Regions from separate parts of the Homo sapiens genome. Here region 2 is linked to region 1. Evidence: fine-mapped expression QTL. A gene starts in region 1. The other region holds a variant in brackets. All regions are shown on one strand. Distances are between the middles of the regions.

Region 1 (5,373 bases):
TGTGAAAATAAACTGAATTTGGAATCAGAACTCTGAACAGCTGTATCTAAGGGTCACACTAAGATTTATCCTAACCATCAACACAGCACATGAAAATAAATCAGCAACAGCAAATGTTTACTGGATGCTTTGACATTATCATTTTAGTTTACAAAACCCGCCCATCAAGAACAAAACATCATCCTCAGATTAAGTTTAGTAATAAATCATTTTGCCAATGATTCTGAACTCAAACTATAAAATTCAAATATCACTACCTCTGATTTCCCATAAGGACTAAATAAAACCTCACAAATGAAAGTGCCTAGTACAATGCCTGACATAAATACATACTCAATAAACATTAACTGCCTTTCTTTTGATCTTAGGCCATGTGATGTAATACTTGCTAGATGTGTGATGGGGCAAACTGCTTAACTCCATCTGTAAAATGGAAATATTAATGCCCACCTTATAGGGTTAAAGTCATTAAAGGATAATGCATACAAAGCCCTTCCACCCACAAAAGGCATTAATAAATCCTGAACCCTCTTTTTTCAAGATAACCTATTCATAACTGTATCAAAAGTATAGAATCATGGGTTGTTGAATTCAAAAATATCCTTCAGAATCCCTATCTTTTGGAAGAATTACAGGAATACAATACCATAAGACGGACGACACAGAGATGAAGTGTGTGCTCCATTAGTGTTTACTGAACTCAGGTGAATTGCTAAGTCCATTATCACTCGGCTAATTGTGGCGGTCTGGAGAGTCTCTCCAGGGGTAGGACTCTCACCTCCTGGTGAGCGACTGGGTCTTACTGCTCTCAAACCAGGGCTCTTTCCACTATCTTGTGTCCTCTCCCTAGTTTATGTCAGGTACATACTGATAAAATTATATACTGATTTATAGTCTCTAGCACAAATTCGCTTAAGGGTCATAATAAGGTATTTCCATAATTTAAGATTTTCTGTGGCTAAGGAAGTAAGGGTTGGGCAAAGGGTAGAAGTCACTCTATTCCTGTCAAACCCAAAAGTGAATATACTTTAAGTAAAATGCTATGCATTGAACACACAAATGCAGGTACGACTGCATGTGGTGAGTCGAAATTCAGATGAAGCACCTGTATAGCAATGAGTGAATTCACAGCCTCTAGATGACAAGTAGAAGGCAGGTTTTAAAATGTCTGAAAATTGCAACTTCAGCGCTTTTGCAACACCTGCTTTTACGATCTGTCACGTGGAGCAAAGAGGCATAACTCAACAGCACTACTAGGGCCAGACGACCATTCACAGGCTGGATACACAAACCTATCTTGTAAACATATAATCAAGCAAAAGCAGGCAAACCGGCACAAGAGGCCTTCACCTAACTTTCTTCCAGATGGCAAACGCTGCACGATGACAAACAAGGCAAACATGGTGCGCAAGCAGCCAACCCAAAACAAATAACTAGGGATTCTGACATCCAAAGGTCCTCTTCATCCTTAATCCTTCCAGAATGTCATCCCACAAGGCAGGGTTTGTTTGCCACAAAACCCTGCGGCCCCTCACATCCCGAGGGACAGTTCTGGTCACCTCCTCCCACGGACCTATTGAGCCTGCTTCACAGACCCCCGAAGCACTGACTCAATTATTCCCACAGTGTAGATTCCATTACATCTGTTAAAGTTTCCGGAACACGTGATTTAGGAGAGCAAACTTGTTAGAAACAGATTAAACAACACTCTAACACATTTCTCTGAGCCGTGTCACACTCGGGTCCAAACAATTCCCAAGGAGGGACTGACTGTCACCAATCTTGGATGGCACTGGTTCAAAGCGCCCTAAAGAGGGGAGCGAGCCCCGCCCGGCTCGCCGCCGGCAGCTCTTACCCATTTGTCCAAGGGGACCTGGGCGAGGGACCCGGTGCCTTGGTACAGGTCCAGGCTGAGCTGCTCCAGGCTCAGCTTCTCCTGCAGAAAGTGGCCCAGGTACCTCTGCAGGAGGTACCGGCAGGCCCTCTTCTTGATGGACTCCGAAAACGGCCAAGGCATAGTGACTGCTGGCAGCTGGGCTGACTGCGGCTGCGGGTTGCGACGGCTCCGGCCTCGGGGTAGCGACTCCGGCTCCAGGCCGCGGCGGGGCCTAAGCCTGGGGCGGCCCCTCCATCCCTATTTGGTGCCGGGAGTCCCTCAGGGAGACCCCATCGCCGGCGCCGCACCGCTCGCGCTGGGCCTGGCGGAGGCAAGACGCAGAGGGGTCCTCCTGGCCCCAGGCCAGGGGACTTCCGAGGAGGGTCCCAACCGGCTCGGAGAGAGTGCAAGAGAGCGCGAGAGGAGGCGGCAGGGGCTGAGGCAGCCACCGCCACTGCCGCCGCGCGACGAATTTGTTGTCATCCGCGAGGCGCGTTCCCGGCTGTAGGGACGCTCCTGGCGCGTTCACGAGACCCAGACTCCCGGCGCGCCGCCGGGCGCTGGCGGAAGTGACGCCACACTGGGGCCGCGGAAGGCGGGCAGAAGGGCGGGGGCTGGAGCAGTTCCGGCTCCGAGGGGGCGGGGCGGAAGAAGGCGGGGAGGGAGGGGGCGGCACCGCCGGTCGGCTCCAGTCGCCTCCGGAGGAAGGAAGAAGAGGACGCCGGGCGCGCAGGTGAGCGGCAGCCGGGGTGGCTGCGGGCGAGGGGCGGCCCCCGAGAAGGGCTAGGGGCTCGGGGCGCCGGCGGGCCGTCAGGCCTTCCGGATGGGGACGCGACGCCATGCAGCTGGCTGGGCCGAGAGGGGCGGCAGGCTGCAGGGGCCCCGCGCCCGTGTTAAGAGGGGTCTGGGGGCCGGTCTGGCCGGCCTGGCTCTCCCGGCTCCCCTCAGACCTCGGCGCCCCGGAAACGCACACTTGGGGCTCCGCCGTCTCCGCTGGGAGGACTGGAGCCCTTCTCGAGCATCCCCGCCCGCACCCGAGCATTGACCGGTGCCCATTGTCAGCAAGTTCTTCGGCCCCCGCCTCATTCAGGTATTGTTTCTGAGGCAGCTTCTTCGTTGCCGTTTGCCTGGCGGTTTGCAGAGCGCTTCTCGCATACGCTCGCTTAATCCTGGGTGTGTCATAGCAACGATCAGGAAACTTGGGTTTTCGAAGCATCTGTGGGCAAAACTGCATTCCTTGAGAAATGCTAAAGGCTCCTGACCCCGCCGGAACCTGGGTGAAGAACTTGGGCTGTTCTGGCAGTCTGCGCAATCGTATTTCTGCCTTTTGGGAGGTAACTCCTGCAGAGGCGGAGCCGGCTGTTAAGTTAAGTCAACCTCGAAAGGCCTGGGTGCGGGTGTTCTATGGCCCAGAAGCCAGATGTCCTTCGTTAGAATCCCGGCACTGACACCTATTAGCCGCCCAGCCACTTTGAGCGGCCACTGCCCTCCCCGAGCCCACGTTGCCTCCTTTGCCGAGTGTGAGCGGATTAAAATCTTATGTGCATGGATTTGTTGGGAAGATTAAATGATATGAGTAGGGCACGAACCTGAACAGAGTCCTGAAACATACAGCTGTTTAATCACAGTGAATTAAGACGACCAGTTTAAGGAGTGAAATGTTTACTGTCTCGGCAACTTTCATGAATGCCTTGGAAATACAGCCCAAAATATTGGTAGATGGAGAAACATCTGGTTCCCCTTTCCACAACCACCTTTTCGTTTTAGAACCAGGGTACTTTGTATGCAGTTGCTTGGATTGTTGATTTCCCTCATTCTTTGTAGACTCATCTCAAGTATTCTCAGTAACTTAGATTCCCTTGCTCTTCATTCAGAAATATTTGTTAAGGTCCATTAAATGAAAGTCACCACAGTTGATCATGTGAACAGTGTCAAGAATCAGGCCGAACCTTCAAGGAGTTTATGTTCTAAAACGGAAGCATGGTGGTACCTGCTTGTGGAGGCTGAGGCGGAAGGATCGCTTGAGCCCAGGACTTTGAGGCTGCATAATTGCATTGACGCTATCCATAGAGTGCCTGCAATTTCAAATATCAGAAAGGATCGTACGAGCTATGATCATGCCACTGCACTCCAGCCTGAACCACAGAGCAAGACCCTTTCTCTCAATAAAGTGGAAGTTTGTTCATTTATTCAGTAAATATTTATTGATTGCCTTCTGTGTGCCAAGCACTGTTCTAGGTACTGGGATTACAGCAGTGAACAGATAAATCTCTTCCTTCCTGGAACTTACATTTTATTGAAGGGAGGAGACATACAATAAATGAGTGAATAATATGCTTTGTGGTGATAAGGGCTGTTGGAAAAACGAAAGCAATGTAAAGGGAGTGGAGATGGGGAAGAGAGAAGGGACTTGCCATTTTTATATGAGATGGTAAGAGAAATTCTCTTGTTTAATAAGATTACATTTTAGCAGAAACTTGGAGAAAGCTGGGAAGTGAGGCACATGTATACCTGGAAGAGTTGTTTTCCATGCAAGGGGAACAGCAAGTGCAACGCCCTGTCACGGGAGAATGCTTGATGAATTTAGGGAACATCAAGAGTGAGTGAAGGAAAAAGTAGAAGCTGGGCAGTTTGGGGGTGGGGGGTGGGGCGGGCGGGGCGCAGAGGAAGCACATCATGTAGGGCCTCGTAGGCCATTGATAAGAACTTTGGAGCCGGGCACAGTGGCTCACTCCTGTAATCCCAGAACTTTTGGGAGGCCGAGGTGGGCGGATCACTTGAGGTCAGGAGTTCAAGACTAGCATGGCCAACATGGTGAAACCCTGTCTTTACCAAAAATATATAAAAAATCAGTCAGGTGTGATGGCGTGCACCTGTAATCCCAGCTACTTGGGAGGCTGAGGCAGGAGAATTGCTTGAACCCGAGAGGCGGAGGTTGCAGTGAGCCGAGATTGTGCCACTGCACTCCAGCCTGGGCAACAGAGTGAGACTCTATCTTAAAAAAATAAAAAGAACTTTGGCCTTTACTCTGGGTGAGGTGGATTTAGGAGAGGAGTGACACAGTATGGCCTAAGTTTCTATGGGATCATGCTAACTGCTGTTAAGAATAGTCTGGTGTGGAAGTGGGAGGGCCAGAGTGAAAACAGCAGAACCAGTTAGAAGGATATCACCGTAATGCAAGGAAAAGATGACAGTGGTTTGGACCAAAGCGGTAGCGGTGAAAATGATTAGTTAGAAGCAGTTGGATTCTGGATATATTTTGAAGATAAGACATGTTTGTAAATAATAATTCTAATATTTGCCATAAAAGGAATACAAACAAGGTGGTATGAAAAGGCAAAGGTGGGATCTTGCAAGAAATTAGAATAGGCTTTGGAAGGTTTGAAATAGACTTCTGACAAATAGATACAATTTGGACTTCTTTCAGCAGTTATTAAATAAGTGGTTTCCTTTTTCAATATAGAATTGCATTCGGGCTATCCATAGAGTGCCTGCAA
Region 2 (5,373 bases), 94 kb before region 1:
TCAGGTGGTGGGTGGGCCCTACCTGGGCCCTCACAGGCAGGCGGGACATTGTCAGGCCCTGGGGAGGAGAGAGTCCGTGGGCCAGGAGGCCATTCCAAGGTCAGTTTCCATGGAGTGGGGGAGAGGGTGTAGTGACTGGACTCCAAGACACTTGGGGGAATGGGGAGAATGGCAGTCCCCACAGCTGCACGGGAAGGGCTGGTCCTCACAGAATAGCAGCAAAGACTCATTCATTCCAGGAATGGAAAGAATGCCATGTTCTTGGAGCCTGGAGACAGGGTTTGAGAGGCTGGCAGCGGCTGGGCCACCAGGACCTCATCAGTGATAACCCTGTGATCAGTGTTCCAGCCCCTGCAGGTTTCCTGGAGAGCAGAGTGTCGTCAGAAGGCCTGGAGCTGAGCCAACAGGCAAGATCCAGCCTGCACATGTGTTTAATTTGAACCACATGGTATTTTTTAAAACTCCAAGCCCCCAGGCTCTTGAGTTGGTTACCAGTACTGAAACTCCCCATTGGGAGCCAGCTTTCCAGTTTCTTTTGAAAGTTTGGAACATCCAGCAACACTGATTCAATTTCATTCATTCAGCAGATATTTATTAAGCATCTACTTTGTCAGACACTGTTTTGGGCACTGAAAATATGGCAGTGAACAAAAGAGAGGAACATCCCTGGGCCCTTGGAGTTGACCTTCCAGGGTCCCCCCGGGGCTCCAATTCTTTGGTGCTGTGTAGCAGAGGCCCCGTGAACAGGGCGCCCTCCCATCAGGTTCACACGCATGGAAGCTATGGGAGGTTAAGTTTGCAACCCCTCATCCAGACCATCCCTTCACATACAGTCTAGGAAACAGAGAGCAGTAAGACCTGCCCAAGCACACCCAGTGCGACTCAGCAGCCACACACAGGAGTAGGCTCAGTCATCTCATTTAATCGCCTGACTCCCTTGTGAGGTCTGTTTCAGGATGTCCACTTTCTAGGTGAGGAAGAGGAGGCTAAGGAAGGCAGTGCCTGCTCAGACTGCAGAGGCTGGATTCACCCAACTCATCTGACTCCAACACCAATGTGATTTCCAAGCCCCCAGGCAGGAATTCATTGGGCAAAGGCTCTGTGGCAAAGTGGCAAAAGTAGGCAGGAACAGGCAGGAATAGAGAGTGGGAAAGGGAAAATAATACCTGATTCCTCTTCTATTCCGAGTGAGCTGACCCACATATGCCCTCCTTTCTTCTTTTTCAGCCGGCCTTAAGCAGGTGGCTTATCAAAATCCTTTCGAGGTCTTGCAAAAACCAATCCCACACTCGAGAAGAACGTGCTGGCCGGTGAAATCGGACAACATTGCTCACGGGATGTAATTCAATGGTAGACTGCAGCCACAGCCTGAGAACTCAGACACCTGATTTATGAGACGCACATAAGTAACGTTTACCGAAGCCCAGCAAATGGCCCCACAGTGGGAGAGAAACTGGCAAACCCGTACAGTAGAATTCTGTTGCCCTTCTGTGGGGAAGGCCAGTTATTCATTTACAGAGGGAGAAATTTCTGCCTTGACTAAAAGGATCGATGCTGTGGGAAAAGGTAATATATCTGAGTTCCCATGGATCTGGTTGATAGGTTCACCTGGCGTGTTCCATATGGGGCCAGGCCCAGGCCACACCTGTGGTGCTAACACCTGGGGTGGAGGGAGGAATTAGCAAATAGTCTTCCAGCATCCCCAGCTCCAGCACCCATGTGGGCTTCCACTCTCTCCCTGAGAAGGGCCAAGTAGAAAGAGAGAACAAGGTTTCACTCCAATCCGTTCCCAGCTCTGGGTCTGTCCTGGGCTCCAGAACCGCGTGATCAGGGGCCATATGTGGCCTTCACTGCTCTCTGCAGTGGGAAGGTAAGAAAACTGCCCCCACCCTGCCCCATCATCACCCCAATCCATCATGGGGAGTGGGTGGCACTAAGGCCCTCCAAATCCCAGCCTCGGGGAAACTCCCTGATGTTGCAATGGCCACAGGCAGGCTCTTGCTCTCCGGAGATGAGTCACAAATTTGATGAGGAGCAGGTCGGAAGCAGCCCTGGAAAGTGTTCCTCCCCACCCCTGCTCCCACCACAGCTCCGAGGAGCCTGGGCATCCAACCAGGGCTGATCCAAGCCTTGGCTCCGGCTGAGCTCCGCTCTGGCCTCTGTGCACCTTCAGCTCCTTCCTGCCCTTCTCTTTCCCTGTGCCCAGCCCCTTTCTCCAGACCCCCTTGATTCCTTCTCAGCATCCTCTTGCCTCCCCGGACCACCCCCAGCTCAGGCCCCTGCCCAAGAAGGGCCTCACCGCGGGGCTGCAGAGTGCACAGTGCAGCCGGTCAGAGGTCCAGGTCTCTGAGTCACACATGCCACTGTTCCAGTCCTCACTCCACCACCGCATGGGCCTGGCCGACCACCGAAACTCGGCATCCCATCTGTAAAATGGGAATGAGGAGAGCAGTGCCTCACTGTGTCGTTGTGAAAATTAAGTGACCCAAAAGGACGGCCTTATTCCCTTTTTGGAAAGAGGTAATGGGCAAAGAAAGGGAAGGAAAGGCGAGAAAGGACAAGAGGAAGGTCAGAGATGTATGTGAGACACCAGGACAGCGCCACCCCAGCAAGCACCAACAACCATTTTCTCCTATGAGCAGAAGAGGCTTTAACTATGACTGAAATGAATGCATGTCAAAGCACAGTCTGAATAAAATCCCAAAAATGGTGTCCGTGTCACTCTCCTGGTTGTGATATGGCACGATCCTTGTGTAAGATGTTACTATTGGGGGAAACTGAGTAAAGAATAATGGGGCCGGGCACAGTGCTCATGCCTATAATCCCAGCACTTTGGGAGGCCGAGACAGGCAGATCACATGAGCCCAGGAGTTCAAAGACCAGCCCAGGCAACATGGTGAAACCCTGTCTCTAGTAAAAAT[A/G]CAAAAATTAGCCAGGCATGGGGGTGCACACCTGTAGTATCAGGTACTTGGGAGAATGTGGTGGGAAAATCAGTAGAGCCCAGGGTTCAAGGCTGCAGTGAGCCATGATTGTGCCATTGCACTCCAGCCTGGGCAATAAAGTGAGACCCTGTCTCAGAAAAAAAAAAAAAAAAAGAATGAGTACAAGGCATCTTTCTTATCACTGTATGCAAATCTACTAAAAACCTTAAAAAGAATGCATCATTAAGTTCAACCACTCTGCCTTACAGATGAAGAAACCAAGGTCCAGAGACAAGCAGACTTGTCCAAGGTCACCGAGTAAGCAGGGCTCCTGCTGAAGGGCTCTGTTCAGACCCAAGATGCCCGCTGGGCCCTGGTGACAGGTCTCAGTCTCAGGCTGAGGTCAGAGAAGAGGCCTGAGTGCCAGGGTTCTCATTTGAGTGGCCATGATGATTGCAGAGACTCCCTATGGCCAGGATTGTGTTTAAGGCAGTAAACAGGAAGCCAAGCCTACTTTTCAGGAGCTTCAGGGGACAGAAAACTATCAGGAAGGATTGGTTGGGACCCAGCAAGTACGAGAGGAAGACATTTCAGGGCTTCAGTCAACAAGGGGCTCAGTGTACTGTAGCTGCCAAAATAGCTGCCAGCTCTCAGCTGCATTCAAAGGAGTATAGCCTCTAAAATGAGGAAGGTCATATTCCCTTAATTTAGCACTGGACAGGGTCCATTAGGAGTATTGTGTCCAGCTCTTGGCTGATTCCAAAGACAGGGATCAGACTGGTGAGAGGATGCAACAGCACACCCTCCAGACACATGGCGGCAGAGGGCTTACCACAGAAGATAAGACTTATGTGGAGAGAGGAACAAATGCACTTAGTGTTACCCCAAAGGGACCAAAGAGAAAAAAATCCTGAGAAACACTTTCTGTCTTAATTTAAGGATGGGCTCTTTGACAGGCAGAGCTGTCCCATGATAGAACTGATGGCCCTCAATGACGTGGGTTCCTGGTCTCTGGAGGAGCCCAGCGAAGCTGCAGGATCTCTTGGCAGGAGGCTGCAACAAGAATCCAGGAAGCATCTACTGCACACTCACCCTTGAGGAGCTCACTGCATGTAAGGGAGGCAGAAAAGAAAAGAGATCATTCCTCAGTGTGAGATGTCTCGTCATGGGGTGACGAAGTCTGCTGCAAGGAGTTCCAGAAGGAAAGGGGGTTCCTTGAGCTGGATCTTAAAGTTAAGTAGGACAATGAGAGTGTTGGCCACCTGCAACTTTTCCCTCACGCGAGTTCTCAGCCAACAAAATCAAGGGCTGGAAGATGTATGCCAATCCCAAGGAGTGACTGTTGTCCTCTGGGCCATGTGAGTCAGTGAAGACTGAACAAGGAAGTGGCATGTTTGGAACTGCATTTCAGAGAGATCACTTTCACTAGAATATGGATGATGGCTTGCACAGTGTATCAGTTATCTATGTTGCATAAAAAACCACTCCCACACTTAGTGGTTTAAAACAACCACCTCAACTCATAATTCTGTAATTGGCCATTTGGGCTGGGTTTAGCCGGGTGGTTCTTCTACTGGTCTTGGCTGGGCTTACTCATGAATCTGTGATCAACAGCCAGGCAGCTATCACTCTGCTTCTGGAGAATGGGCAGGAGGCTGCAGCAAGCACAAGGCCAACATCAGATGGAATTAAAACCCACTGATGGGGCCGAGAGTGGTGGCTCACACCTGTAATCCCAGCACTTTGGGAGGCCAAGGACGTCAGGAGTTCAAAACCAGCCTGGTCAACATGGTAAAACCCCATCTCTACTAAAAATACAAAAATTAGCTGGTCATGGTGGTGCATGCCTGTAGTCCCAGCTACTCGGGAGGCTGAGGCAGGAGAATGGCTTGAACCTGGGAGATGGAGGTTGCAGTGAGCCGAGATTGCACCACTGCCCTCCAGCCTGGGTGACAGAATGAGACTCCATCTTAAAAAAAAAAACCAAAAAAAAAACCCCACTGATGGGTTAGGTGAAATTATGGCAGACTAGGGAGTACTCCAGTCCTGACCTCCACAATCTAAGACAGAATCAGAGCAGCTTCTTCATTCATGGCTTTGTGTGTCCAACACTTACTGAGTGACCAATACATGGCATGTAAAAGTAAAATTGTAAAAGTAAAATATAAAATCCCACCTTCAGTGAGTTCACAGGATGTGAAAAAGCTCATCATGCCCATTTTATAGATGGAAAAACTGAGGCCCAGAATGCTTTGCCCCAAGACAGAGCAACTTCGTCAGTGTGAGGTCTGGGATCAAGTGCCAGCTCTTCTACTCTGAGTACTGTAGCCCAACACAGTGCTCCCTAGAAAATGGTTCCTGAGCAGCTTGTCTTTTGAATAGAAGTGCCATTTGGTCAATGTTGATTTGGGGTTGGGAGCTGGTGAAGGGCAGAAAATTCTTCTTCCTCATT

Evidence for each region. PIP is the estimated chance that this variant, and not a neighbour inherited with it, causes the effect.
Region 2: its variant is fine-mapped to the expression of GSKIP in whole blood (INTERVAL, PIP 0.99).

Annotation. Positions count from the first base shown.
Region 1 is chr14:96,360,960-96,366,332 of GRCh38, forward strand. It overlaps GSKIP (GSK3B interacting protein), which reads left to right and starts at 2,567. Exons shown (of 4, transcript NM_016472.5): 1 at 2,567-2,609. It overlaps ATG2B (autophagy related 2B), which reads right to left and starts at 2,382. Exons shown (of 42, transcript NM_018036.7): 1 at 1,856-2,382. The coding sequence starts at 2,017. RefSeq lists enhancers at 942-1,011, 2,253-2,547, 2,468-3,288 and a silencer at 2,490-2,839.
Region 2 is chr14:96,267,203-96,272,575 of GRCh38, forward strand. BDKRB1-AS1 (BDKRB1 antisense RNA 1) reads right to left here and starts at 1,378. Exons shown (of 2, transcript XR_007064322.1): 1 at 1,167-1,378. RefSeq lists an enhancer at 1,453-2,652. The variant A/G (reference allele first, on the strand shown) is at 2,922.